Homo sapiens: one gene and its partner. The protein of the gene in region 2 interacts with the protein of the main gene of each other region in a pairwise test. Each region holds a gene or a part of one and is shown on either strand. Other genes may lie near its edges.

Region 1 (7,036 bases), on a different chromosome or scaffold from region 2:
AAAATAATAACAAGCCATTCTGTAATGGCATCGAATTTTCCACCGTCACAACACCTACTGTTATGGTCCTCCACTCACCTCCGGAGTACCTTGAGCTTATCACGAATACAGCAATTGTTGGAATGTATTTAATTGTCTGTTGACAAATAAAGGTCCCTTTTGCATTTATTTTTGAATACATAGTGCCTATGAGAGGGCCTGGCATGTAATAGGAATCGATAAGTATTTGTTAAAAAAAGAAAATAACAATTATCTTCCACCTCTAGGTTTTCTTTTTCTGTATTTAACTAGAGACGGGGGCTGGGTGCAGTGGCTTACGCCTGTAATCCTAGCACTTTGGGAGGCCAAGGTGGATGGATTGTTTGAGCCCAGGAGTTCGAGACCAGCCTGAGCAACATGGCAAGACACTGTCTCTAGAAAAAACACAAAAATTAGCTGGGCATGGTGGCGGGTGCCTGTAGTCCCAGCTACTCAGGAGGCTAAGGTGGAAGGATCTCCTGAGCCCAGGAGGTCAAGGCTGCAGTGAGCTGTGATTGCACCACTGCACTCCAGCCTGGGTGACAGAGTGAGACCCTGTCTCAGGAAAAAAAAAAAAAAAAAAATAGAGATGGGCCTTCACTTTGCTGCCCAGGCTGGTCTTGAACTCCTGGCCTCAAGTGATTTTCCTGCCTTGGCCTCCCAAAGGGCTGGGATTACAGGCATGAGCCACTGCACCAGGCCGACCATCTCTGGGATTTAGTAGTTGCCATTCTGTCTGCCTGCAATTCTCTTCTCCCAGAGGCATGCATGGTTTGCTTCCTGCCTTTCTCAATGAAATCTAAGACATCTCTCAAGTTTTATCTCCATCCTGCCTATCTCCCTGTCCTGCACCTCTGCCTTATTTTTGCTCTTGGCTTATGGTCGTTAGTACCTGTCTTCCCTAACAGAATGTGAGCTCCATGAGGGCAGGGACTCTGTCTCACTCCCTGCTGTTCCCCAGACCTGAAAGAGCACACGGCACATAGCAGGCCCCCCTGTAAGCATTCCCTGGGTGGATACATGCATGGTATTATTATTGTTTATATTATCCTCTCATTTTATCTAAATCAGGAAATTGAGGCTGGAGATGCTAAGTCACTTACGCTAAGTAGTATCAGGAGTTGAGCCCAGGACCTTAGCAACTGCCTTGCTGCTTCTGCTCCAGTGCTTCAGGAAAGGTATGGGACTTTTAGAGGTGTCTGTACTATCTATTACAGGATAATCTGGGTGATTGGAATGGATCCAAAGTCCTTGTGTTTCTTAGAGAAGATCCTGCTTACAGATTTTTTTTTCTTTTTTTTGCTATAGGTTCTTGCTCTGTCACCCAGGCTAGAGTGCAGTGGTGTGATCATGGCTCACTGAAACATTGACCTCCCAGGCTAAAGTGATCCCCCCATCTCAGCCTCTTGAGTAGCTGGGACTACAGGCACACACCACTACATCTGGCTAATTTTTGTATAATTATTTTTGTTTTAGAAATAGGGTCTTGCTATGTTGCCCAGGCTGGTCTCAAATTCCTGGACTCAAGAGATCCTCCTGCCTTGGCCTCCCAAAGTGTTGTTGAGATTACAGATGTGAGCCACCGTGTCCGGCTGAGATTGCTCCATTCTAAACGCTTCTCTACACTTCCCCAAATCTTAATTTTCAGATCAGGTTCTTTGTATTATCTCTCTGGAAAGTCAGGTTGTCACTGTTTCTTCCAATACCACATTCCTTCCCCTCCCTTTGGTCTGGTAGAAAGTGCAATGGCGGCCGGGCATGGTGGCTCACGCCTGTAATCCCAGCACTTTGGGAGGCAGAGACGGGCAGATCACCTAAGGTCAGGAGTTCGAGACCACCCTGACCAATATGGAGAAACTCTGTCTCTACTAAAAATACAAAATTAGCTGGGTGTGGTGGCACATGCCTGTAATCCCAGTCACTCGGGAAGCTGAAGCAGGAGAATCTCTTGAACCAGGGAGGCGGAGGTTGTGGTGAGTCCAGATCGCGCCATTGCACTCCAGCCTGGCAGCAACGAGAGCAAAACTCCGTCTCAAAAAAAAGAAAGTGCAATGTCATTGTAGGGAGACACCTCAAGTGAGTTTCCAACTCTGTCCTCACTAGTGGGGTCACATTGAGCAAGTGCTTAACTTCTCAAAGCATCTGTTTCCTTCTCAGAAAAATGCAGAAAATTGCCATTTACCTCAATGGCTCTCAACCCACACTAAGCATCAGAATTACTGGTGGTGGGAGAAGGAATTAGAATGTTGGGTGCAGGCATCTGTGGTTTTAAGAGCTGCCCAGGTGATTCTAATGGGCAACCAGGGGCCTTTCTCAAGGAGATAATTAAATCAGATAAATTAAGAAAACATACTCTGAGACCTGTAAAGCTCTCTGTATGGTAAATTACTTTCATTATTCAACACCAGAGAAAGGCCAGAAGTTGAACCTCAGTTCCTGCCCTCGCAGAGGCAAGATGGCGCTGGAGGCCTGCTGCTGAGTCTCTCACCTCCCAGAAGCCATTCCCAGCTCCACAGCCTGCCTCCCACACGAACACCCGCCTCTTCTGCATGCGGACACAGCCTTGACATCCACGCCTTTTCACATATGGGCAGGTAGGACATTAACACTAAATAGTGCTTTATATAAAACACACAAAAAGACATATCCACAGCACAAGGCTGGAGCAGAAAGCCTTCAGGACCGAGACACATCTTCGTGTCCTACTAAAAACCTTCCCCTCAGTATGTCCTAGGGTGTGGGTGTCCCAGGGTTTCTCAGTGGAAGGTCACTCTCAGGCTCTCGCGGTTGTTAGGGGAATTGCCTCTGGACATCTATCTTGTCGTGTTTGCTTGGGGGCGACATGTGGGGGTGAAGGACCTCAGGCTGCCTCAACAGAGTGAATCCTGGGCTCTAGAAAAGCCCCCGCCCCACAACATTTCTCTCACTTGCTAGAGAATTCTAGAGTGCATAACTTATTTTATTTTTCTGTTCCTTGATAATGAATAAGAGGCAAATGATTCATGCCGAGTTAAAACATAAGGAGGTATAAATAATAGCAGATCCTTTCTTGAACATGCAGGGACTGAGTGGGAGTGGAAATGGGGACCTTGGAGCAGGAATTGAAGGATATGAAGAGGAAGGTGGGGAGCTTCCAGGGAGCAAACCATGAAGGGAGGCTGGGCGCGGTGGCTCACACCTGTAATCCCAGCACTTTGGGAGGCCAGGGTGGGCGGATCACTTGAGATCAGGCATTCAGGACCAGCCTGGCCAACATGGTGAAACCCTGTCTCTACTAAAAATGCAAAAATTAGCTAGGTGTGGTGGCAGCCACCTATAATCCCAGCTACTCAGGAGGCTGAGGCAGGAGAACCACTTGAACCCAGGAGGTGGAGGCTGCGATGAGCTGAGATCATGCCACTGCACTCCAACCTGGGCAACAGAGTGAGACTCCATCTCAAGAACAACAATAACAAAATATGGACCGAGCGCCATGGCTCACGCTTATTATCCCAGCACTTTGGAAGGGCGAGGCAGGTGGATCACTTGAGGTCAGGAGTTCAAGACCAGCCTGGTCAACATGGTGAAACCCCCTCTCTACTAAAAATAGAAAAATTAGCCAGGCGTGGTGGCACACGCCTGTAGTCCCAGTTACTCAGGAGCCTGAGGCAGGCAAATCGCTTGAACCCAGGAGGCAGAGGTTATAGTAAGCCAAGATCGTGCCACCGCACTCTAGCCAACAGAGTGAGACTCTGTCTCAAAAAAAAAAAAAAAATCACCCAGGAAGGGAGACAAGAGGCACCAAGAAAGTCCCTTATGGTGTCACAATTTGCTTGTGTTATCAAGAAAAGTCTCAGGTAGCTTTTGAAGGCTCCTCCTCTCTGCTGTAAATCTTTATATGATAACTTCTTTTGACCAGCAGTTCATAGCCACTGTTGTGAGGAAGGTCCACGTGATTTGTCACTAATAAAAGTTACCTGTACAAAGCTTATGAGTGATTCATTTAAAGATTATTTACAACCGGTTCAAAATATGCCTCCTTGAGTGAGATGGTAAAGGATGAGATGGACTGGTCATGGTGACTCACACCTGTAATCCCAGCACTTTGGGAGCCCAAGGCAGAGGATTGCTTGAAGCCAGGAGTTCAAGACCAGCCTAGGCAACATTCTGAGACCTCATCTCTATGTTCCCAGCAACTCTGGAGGCTGAGGTGGGAGGATCACTTGAGCCCAGGAGGCGGAGGCTTCAGTGAGCCATGTTCGTGCTACTGAACTTGAGCCTGGGCAATAGAGGGAGACCTTGTCCCAAAACAAAAACAAAACACAACAAAAAAAAGATTGAGATGACAGCTCTGGCGCTGGGGCTGGGGCTGGAACTATGCAAACCCCGGAGCCTATTTTGAATCCCAGAAGTCTTTACCTCTGCACTCCTTAGTCTCCTTTTCATAATAGGTTCCTGCTGGACACTCCTCCAAGCACAGTCCATCATAGAGGACCCAGGAACTCTCAAGACAGAGCTCGCAGTCGTCGGCTTTGGGGCCACTGCACTCCAGACAGTCTTTATGGCAGGGGACACAGTGGCGCGAGTCTGCATAGAAGCCACGGGGACAGGACTGGTGGCACATATCATCGTGCAGGAAGAACTCAGGCGTGCACTCTGGGAAAAGGAGGAAGCAGCAAGTTATCCCCGGGGGGTAGGAGAAAGGAATTCATTGTCTGCAGTAGGCTAGCTCCTCCCTCAGCACTTTGGTTGATTTGACCTGAGAGTATGCTTGCCCTTTACCCACCCTGCCAGGGCATAGACTTGATGTCTAACAAGCCCTGCCTTGGGACAAGGAGGCCACACATGGTGACCGTATTAGATGGTGCTGGACTTACACAATGAAATGGTCTGCCCTTTGGAGGTGCAGTGCAAAAATTTGCAATGCTGCAAAAGACAGGGATGGCTGAGAGGCTGGCGGTATTGTTTGAAAAACCCGAAGAGCATTAACAGATTTAAAAAATTGTATTGAGAACCTCACACTGTTTTCAACACAGAAAGCAGTTTAGGAATGGTTGGATTAGTTAACTTTTCATTCATTGATCAGGTACAACAATGAATACAGGATTGATCAGTGTGAAGAATACATTGCGGGTTTATTTTTTTTGTGTTCATTTTCTTACTTTGGGGGGAATCCTGGGAAACACTTGAGGTCACACCAAGAGAATACTTTGGATAGGACAGCACCAGTTAAATGAGTCTGTCTTATTCTGGAGAGAAAATTGAACAGCTTTTTGGGGGAGATAATTCCTGAGGGAAAAAAACAACAAAATTCATTCACAGCCAGAGTGGTCATCTCAGTCATAGTTGCCCGAACTTTTCTTTCCTATCCTTTTTAACAACTGCAGTTTTCTAGCTACCTCTGTGTTTTGTGGCTTACTATCAGTCTGTAAGATTTTGTGTTCCAAAAGATGGGAACAGCTGGGCGTGGTGCCTCACGCTTGTAATCCCAGCACTTTGGGAGGCTGAGGACGGTGGATCACCTGAGGTCAGGAGTTTGAGACCAGCCTGACCAACATGGAGAAACCTCGTCTCTACTAAAAATGTTAAAATTAGCCCGGCGTGGTGGAGCGTGCCTGTAATCCCAGCTACTCTGGAGGCTGAGGCAGGAGAATCGCTTAAACATGGGAGGCAGAAGTTGCAGTGAGCTGAGATTGAGCCATTGCACTCCAGCCTGGGCAACAAGAGTGAAACTCCATCTCAAGGAAAAAAAAAAGATGAGAACATTGGGTTCTTCTCTGTACCTCTAGCACCTAGGATAGCACTTGCACATCTGCTGTGTGTGTACATATGGGGGTGAGTGTAAGAGATCATGCAAAAAGGGGCTCTTGCTTGTCTTAACTTGCAGCATCCATAATGAAAAGGGTGTATCTCACCCTCAGTTTCTCTGATGACAGGCACAGAGACATACCTTTCAGGAATGGTAGGGAGACTGGTTCCCACAGCTCTTTGCCATCCACCCTCAGATAATCGGCCCCCAACTGGTGGCTCAGCAGAGCCTTGCTCTCCTGTGGGAAGCTCCTAGGTACCTTTGCATGTTTTCTCATGGATGCAGTCCTGACACATCTCTGGGCAATGCTTGCATACCCCCTTCACAGCCACGTGCCTCTCGGGGCAGTTTTCCTGGCACACTCCGTGGTGCAGGACGTGGCCTCCTTCACAAGAATGGCAGTTGGTGGCGTTTCCTTCACATGTTCTGCAAGGAGAGCTACAGCGTTCACATATGCCGTCTTCTGCATAAGAGCCCCTGTGGAAGGAAGACAGAGTGCAACTGGAGAAGCTGACCTGCTGGAGAAGTGACTCATTCCTGGGGAAAAGGAATTAGGTCTAAAAACAAAAGGGCTGCTGCTGTCGTCAGCTGAGAGGCATCCATGGGATTTATAAGGAAGTGAAAAGAACATTCAGAAAAATGGAAGGAAAAGGACAAGCATTATTCTTGTGAAAGGAAAATAAATCTTGGGACCCCAGTATTACTAAGCCAAAGGGAAAAATCAAGCTGGGAACTGCTTAGGGTAAACCTGCCTCCCACGCTATTCCTTAAAAAGATAGCTAACTGGCCGGGTGTGGTGGCTCACGCTTGTAATCCCAGCACTTTGGGAGGCCGAGGTGGGCAGGTCATCAGGTCAGGAGATCGAGACCATTCTGGCCAACATGGTGAAACACTGTCTCTACTAAAAAATACAAAAATTAGCTGGGTGTGGTGGTGCACGCCTATAGTCTCAGCTACTCGGGAGGCTGAGACAGGAGAATCACTTGAACTCGGGAGGCAGAGGCTGCAGTGAGCCGAGATCATGCCACTGCACTCCAACCTGGTGACAGAGTGAGACTCTGTCTTAAAAAAAAAAAAACAAAACCAAAAACCAGATAGTTACTAAGATTTTAAAAAGCTACAATGGGTTGGGTAGGGTGGCTCATGCCTGTAATCCCAGCACTCTGGGAGGCTGAGGTGGGTGGATCACCTGAGATCAGGAGTTTGAGACTGGCTTGGCCAGCATGGCAA
Region 2 (7,036 bases):
TCAGGCCCAGGGTTGAGGTTGAACTGCATCTTAGTAATTTTATGCAAAGCAAAGACATTTTCTTTTTTTCTTGAGACGGAGTCTCTCTCTGTCGCCCAGCCTGGAGTGCAGTGGCGCGATTTCGGTTCACTGCAACCTTTGCTGCCCAGGTTCAAGCGATTCTCCTGCCTCAGCCTCCCAAGTAGCTGGGATTACAGGTGCCTGCCACCATGCCTGGCTAATTTTTGTAGTTTTTTAGTAGACACAGGGTTTCACCATCTTGGCCAGGCAGGTCTTGAACTCCTGACCTCGTGATCCACCCGCCTCAGCCTCCCAAAGTGCTGAGATTACAGGCGTGAGCCACCGCACCAGGCCAGCAAAGACATTTTCTAGAACTGTTTGTTTGTTGGTGACTCTTTTCCTCCCGATTATAGAGGAATAACAAAATAAATTAACTGTCTAAGGTCTTACTCATCAGAGTTGCTAGTGAAGGCGTCATCCTTGTTATTGGCAGGGGCTTAGCACTTGTCATTCCAGATGCTAATTCCTGAGCTAACTACTGCAAAGAAAAGCATTAAGAGGGAATGTGCTAACTGCTCGGATATTTTTGCCTTTAACTGTTTCCTTTTGTGAATTATAATCTCTTATTGCCAGCCCCAGACAAAACCCTCAAATAGGAAAAAATTGATTTTTAATCTCCATTGCAGGGACTTATCTTTCAATTCTGTATCCTCCTACCCTAAGTTTAATCAACCTGTAACCCATGATACTTTTCCTGTGCCTTCACCCAAAGGCATAAGTGACGTGGTTTCAGGTGTAATTAGGTTCAGGATTGATTAAGAGAAATTCCTTGAAACCAGCACTCTACAATCACATCCTTACATGCAGGAGGAGCACAAGAAGCCAGGAGAAAATGCAAATACAACCCTAAAACCAGAATTTGTATACCTGGTAATTATTGTCGCTTGTAATTTTATTTTTAAAGCAGAATTCTCTTGGCATAGATGCTCTGAAAATTTTGATCAAAAGTAATAAATTATAATTTCAAAAAGGCAGATTTTATTCCAAATCACCTTAGAATCTCAGAGTTCAAAGGATTCTATTCCTACTTTCAGATAATCATACAATTAAGCAAAATGGCAAGATCTCAGTAATCAGCCAAGTTAATACAATTTAAGAGTGGTATTTTGGGATACTGCCTAAATGATCTGGTTCAAATTTTAGCAAGACCAACCTGGGCTCTTTCTTTTTAGCATACAATTAAAAAAAGCAACTGTTCATAAAGCTAATTATAATAGCAATTAACTAATTGCATATACTATTGGCCACTTACTGACTTGAAACAGAGGGCAATTGGCTAATTGGTAATTAGCTAGTGAATGGCTTTTATATTCAAAGAATTGTTATATAACTTGCTCTGTGAAATAACTTGCCCATAAAGGCAACCAAACCTTGATGTTCTCGTTTCCTTATAAACTAAGTACAAATGTGAATCAATTTGCCCATCATTGACTTTGTAGTTTTTTTTTTTCTTTCTAAATACATGTTCTAGTATGGCGTTTGACTAAAAATGTGACTAAAAATGTTCTCTGGATAGCATTTGATTGCTATACAATTTGCTAAACTTCTACTGGTTTGGAATAACATATTTTGAACACTGTGTCAAGGGCTTTACAGAGATTCTCTTATTTAATACTCATAAGAGCCTAGGAGTTTAGTCTACTATTACCCAGCCCCATTTTACAGATGGGAAAACTGAGGGGTAGAGAGGTTGTTTCTGTTCACAATCACACAGTGAGGAAGGCAGGAAAAAAATTAAGGTTATCTCATTCTAATGCTCAATTCTTATTCACAATGTAGAACACCTCTAAGAACCTTGCAAAAGACAGTTTATCTAATGAATAGCTTCGAGAGTTGCTTGTGCCTGACCCATTCTGTGGATGGCTGTCCAGGTTTGGTGCATGTTAATGGAGGGGGGCTCAAGAGTTCAAAAAGCTGCCGGGTATAAAGTCACGTCTCCAGAGGCAGATGACAGAGGAGACAGTGAATAAGTGTTTTTTGGCGGTTCCATGCTTCCGACACCCTTCTGATTCAGCTGGTTGGAAGCTGGCAGTGTGGACTGGGTGGAAGGTATGGATGAAAGTCATTCTGCTTGAGGATCCAAAGTGTCTAGGCCCAGCCATGCTCCTGGACATGCCCTTCATCCACTTACTAAAACTCACTCCAGTACAGGACTCGCCTCTCTTCTTGGCCGTGGGTGACATAATGTCTGCCTGGTCCCCCAACCCTCTTTCAGTTTTGTCTAAATGCTGGCTTTCTTTGCAGCCACTCCTGGTGACTCTCACCCACTGGGATTTGGCCTTTCTCTTGGTCTGATCATCTACAGAACTTGGCTCTCTTTCTGTTCCCTCCAACGCATTTCTCATTCAGGGGGATGAGTCACCTCTCTTCACCATTTACACAGCACCTTACGCCCTAGCATCCATGATGGAGCTTCTTTGTCTGCCTTGAATTGTTACTCTTTAGATTTTTAACATTCACTGTTACTCAGAAGATTGCCTGTTGTATTTAACTTCCATTTTACAGGTGACAAAATTGAGTCTCTATGATGTTTTAAAACATAGCAGCTAGAACCAGGGTTAGAATTAACTCGTTTTTCTCATTCTTAATTCACATCTTTCTTCACAAGCTTAAGTTCTTCCTAATCCATTGATTCATATTACTTTTGAGAGGGGCTAACTTTCTGACACACTGCAAAAATAGATTTTGGAGAACTTAAAGTTTATGCTTGCCCTTAGAGACTAGACCTGATATTTTTTAGTGTATTATTTATAGAAATTATGATCTGGTAGGGTCTTATGGGTAAGGCTTGCCTCCTAGGAGATAAACAGAGCCCCTAGAATGTGAGATAGAACACCTGGGCTTGTCAAACAAGATTGCTGCAAATGACCCCAGCATTAGAGCTTGCACTGTTAAGAAGGAGAATAAGAAGGGGAAAGAGATCACGGAAAAGGTCTACCTGTGCTTGGTTGCCGGTGTGCAGGGGCGGATGTGGCGAGGTCTGGTGATGTGCTGGGTGTGCATGAAGGTGGGAATGGGAGTGGTGATGTGGATGGTTCTGCTGGTGATGGGGTTGAGGGTGAGGATGGTGTGCTGGGTGCTGGTGCTGGTGTGGGTAAGGGTGATGGGGTGGCAGTGTCTGGTGCTGATGCGGGTGCGAGTGCATGTGATGGTGTGGCGTCTGGTCCTGCCGGGAGCCCATCATCTCCATCATGTGTCCCATGGTGTTCATGTTCCCATTTGACATGGCAGCAGGGTGGTGAGTCAATGCAGCCTTCAACCTCTGAAACAGAACAAAAGGGAGGAGAGAGAACAACTGAAGTCAGTCATGTACATGATAGAGATTTAAAAGCAAAATGACTCACATTTTCAATTCTATATTTTACGATGCTATTGTTAATGTTTCCTACCAGTAGCTATCTTGCTACCAGTACAAGATAGCTTTTATATTAATTTCATATTTTCTTATATATCGTGGTCAGTAGGAGGGTCAATGTCAGCCAAATAGGTTAATTCAACTGTCAAAGCCAATGGGCAGGATATCCTATCAAGAATCATACATTCTACTAAAAGGTATTTCCTATTATCCAATCATGCATTATATCGTATCTACAACTGAATGCAAGCATACACCAAAGAGCACCATTCAATATGGTGATAGCACTGAACAAAGAGACTCCATCTGGTGTGCTACTGTATTTAATTTTTTTTTTTTTTTTTTTTTTTGAGATGGAGTCTTGCTCTGTCACTCAGGCTGGAGTGCAGTGGTGCGATCTCGGCTCACTGCAACCTCCGCCTCCCAGCTTCAAGCAATTCTCTGCCTCAGCCTTCTGAGTAGCTGGGATTACAGGCATCTGCCACCATGCCCAGCTAATTTTTGTATTTTTAGTAGAGATGGGGTTTCATCATCTTGGCCAGGCTGGTCTTGAACTCCTGACCTCGTGATCCATCTGCCTCGGCCTCCTAAAGTGCTGGGATTACAGGCGTGAGCCACCGTGCCCGGCCAGCCACTGTATCTTGTAAGAGTCACAAGAACAAATGCTCTTGCCTCTCAAAATATTTCTCAGACACAGAGAATAAATAATTTCAAATTTTAAAAAGTAGAGAGCTAATCTGATTTTAGGGCTTAAAATTAGAGTTAGTAATTTACAAGCTTCGGAGGTAATGTGTAGGTCTTTTCTGTTACCATGATTTTTCTTATGGTCCCTTCCAATACTCTTAATTTTTCTCACTCAATAGCTTTCTTTTGACTTTGAGAAGGGAGTGAGGAAAATAGAAGAATATGAAGTATTGCACCTCCTTTGATGGCCACATCAACTGGCCAGATGTATTTCTAACACAAAAGCATTATCCATTCATAAGCAGACATGCACACAAATAACTTGTACCTGAGTCTAAAGGAGGGGTCAGCAAACTTTTTCTATAAAGAGTCAGATAGTCAGTATTTTCTTCTCTTATCTTCTGTGTCACAACTACTCAACTCTGATACTGTGGTGCAAAAGCAGCTGCAGACAATGTATAAATGAATGAATCTGCTATGTTCTGATACAACTTCAGGGACAGGAAATCTGAATTTCATATAATTTTTACATGTCAGAAATGTTATTCTACTTTTGATTTTTTTCCCCAGTCACTTAAAACTTGAAAACCATTCTTAGCTCATACACTGGACAAAATTAGGCAGCGGGCCAGATTTGGCCCTTGGGCCATCATTTGCTAACCCCGTTCTAAAGATTCAGTTGATAATCAGCTTAGTCCCAGTTTCTTCAAAATTGTTTCTTCTGTGACACAGTCAATTATCATCATATCCCGAGGGGCATAATGTGCTAAGGACTGTATAATGCAGTTACTCGTTGGAAATATATCTTATGCAGAGATGATTGTCTAATTGGCAAGCTCCCATTGCCTTCATGAAGTATTTACCAGGGGACTGCAAGTTCTTTCCAGATTTGTGTTCTTATCTGATTCATGATAGTGGTGTATAATTGCTGGGCAAGGAAACAGTTGTATTTAAATGACGATCAAAGCTACTATGCTCTAACACTGTACAATATTAATGATTCTCAACCAGTTACATACACTATTGAAAAATACCAATTCAATTAATCAAAATCCTTAATTAAACATAAAGAGCCTCTACCTGCTAAGAAAAAAAATAAATAAAAAACAAGAGGAAAGGATGGTAGACTGTATGTTAATATGCGGTCATCATTTAAAATATTTTTGTCATCCCGATTCGGTAGCCACATAGTCTACTTCTCACCTCTTTCATGAGCAACAGATACTGCACAACAGCTACTGACCTTCATAATCCTGAAGAAGTTCAGCATCCTAAATGTCTGGGAAAGATTAGATGCTGGGTACTGTGTTTCCTCCTTTTTTTTTTTTTTTTTTTTTTTTTTTCAGATGGAGTCTCGCTGTGTCGCCAGGCTGGAGTGCAGTGGCAAGATCTCACTGCAACCTCTGCCTCCCGGGTTCAAGCGATTCTCCTGCCTCAGCCTCCTGAGTAGCTGGGACTACAGGCGTGTGCCACCATGCCCAGCTAATTTTTGTATTTTTAGTAGAGACAGGGTTTCACCATGTTGGCTGTGATGGTCTCCATCTTTTGACCTCGTGATCCACCTGCCTCGGCCTCCCAAAGAGCTGGGATTACAGGCGTGAGCCACCACACCCGGCCATGTTTACTTCTAAACAGAAAAGTGAACTAACACTTCTCATCTCCAATTTTAAGCAATGATTTCATTGTTTTTATAAAAATGCTTATTATAAAAATTTAAGCAATGCTTTGCAATGAAGTCAGCAACAATGAAGCCAAATGCGTTGTTTATATCTGGTGGGTGAACAGCATTCCAGACAACTCTATATATGTATATGGAGAGATGAAAGAATAACTAGAATAATTTTGTAACTGTGGAATTAAAATAGCATGTAATTTTAAAAACTTTTATTTGACTATGGCACAGCAAAGAAATGAAAATCTGGGGAATTGCTGGGTTTTAGATACATGTTTCTTTACCCCCAGGAGAAGTTTTTGGATGATACTTCCGAATTTAAGGATGAAAAAATATGAAAAGAGGTTATGTTGAAATCATCATGCCTTTTTAAAAAAATGACATGATGGAAAGTATGGACTTTCTAAACTATTCCTTGTAATTTCATTACTATAAAAGTATACTTTTTATAATAAAAAATCAATTACTACAAAAATATTAGATAATAAAGTAAAAGCCACTTGCCTAGCCTTCTCCCCTAAACCCCAGTCCTGTTCCTCAGATGTAACCACCACATATCCTCAGACATTTGCTTTGCACAAAATCAAGCTGTTTTAATACATAGTTTTGTATCTTGCTTTTTGTCCCTTTAGCAATATATCTTTGACAGCCTTCTATATCTGCAAAAATAGGTAATAATAATGGCTAACATTAACTAAGTACATGCTATGTGCCAGTCCTTGTTCTATATGTTTTACAAGTATCAAGCTACCTAATCCTCAGAACAACCGTGTAAGGCTAAAGGAGAGGCAAAGCCACTCTAACTCCAAAGCCTGTTCTCTAAACCAAGAGAGAAGGTGCCACAAGCCATGCCATTCACACTTTGCCAAAGAGAGAAATGAACTGTGTTTTGCCACCTCCCCATCATCAAAAGGAAAAGCAGAAAGCGCGAGAAGGGGCTAGAAGAGCTGACAAGAGGAGACGTTATTGCCGAATGGTCCAGCAATGGCCACGTGCAAGTGTTACTCAGCACACAGCTAGGGACCTGGATGCACTCTTTCTGAAATTTAGTGGAAGGGAGAGTGGATGGTAAAGAATTTCCAGGAACCTCATCTGCAGCAAAGAAAGGATTGTCCAGGGCTCAGCATCTTCATCTCCCTTGTTGTATTTGTGAAGAACTGACACTTACATTTCCCCTACTCCAAAACACAGACATGATAAGGGCCATGTATCCCTTCTCCCTGCCTCTACTTCCTCACCCTTGGCTTTAACCCTTGTAAGTCTGT

The links. Proteins that work in one complex are often made in the same cells at the same time.
Region 1: the proteins of CREB5 (region 2) and PCSK5 interact in binary tests that used the Homo sapiens proteins (3 or more experiments, as listed by UniProt).

The regions. Positions count from the first base shown.
Region 1 is NC_000009.12:76,320,669-76,327,704, reverse strand, and holds part of PCSK5 (proprotein convertase subtilisin/kexin type 5 isoform 3 precursor), read right to left. Parts: intron 6,284-7,036; coding exon 6,066-6,283; intron 4,654-6,065; coding exon 4,417-4,653; intron 169-4,416; exon of another isoform or gene 1-168. UniProt on the Homo sapiens protein: Serine endoprotease that processes various proproteins by cleavage at paired basic amino acids, recognizing the RXXX[KR]R consensus motif. Likely functions in the constitutive and regulated secretory pathways.
Region 2 is NC_000007.14:28,800,485-28,807,520, reverse strand, and holds part of CREB5 (cyclic AMP-responsive element-binding protein 5), read right to left. Parts: intron 3,323-7,036; coding exon 2,999-3,322; intron 1-2,998. UniProt on the Homo sapiens protein: Binds to the cAMP response element and activates transcription.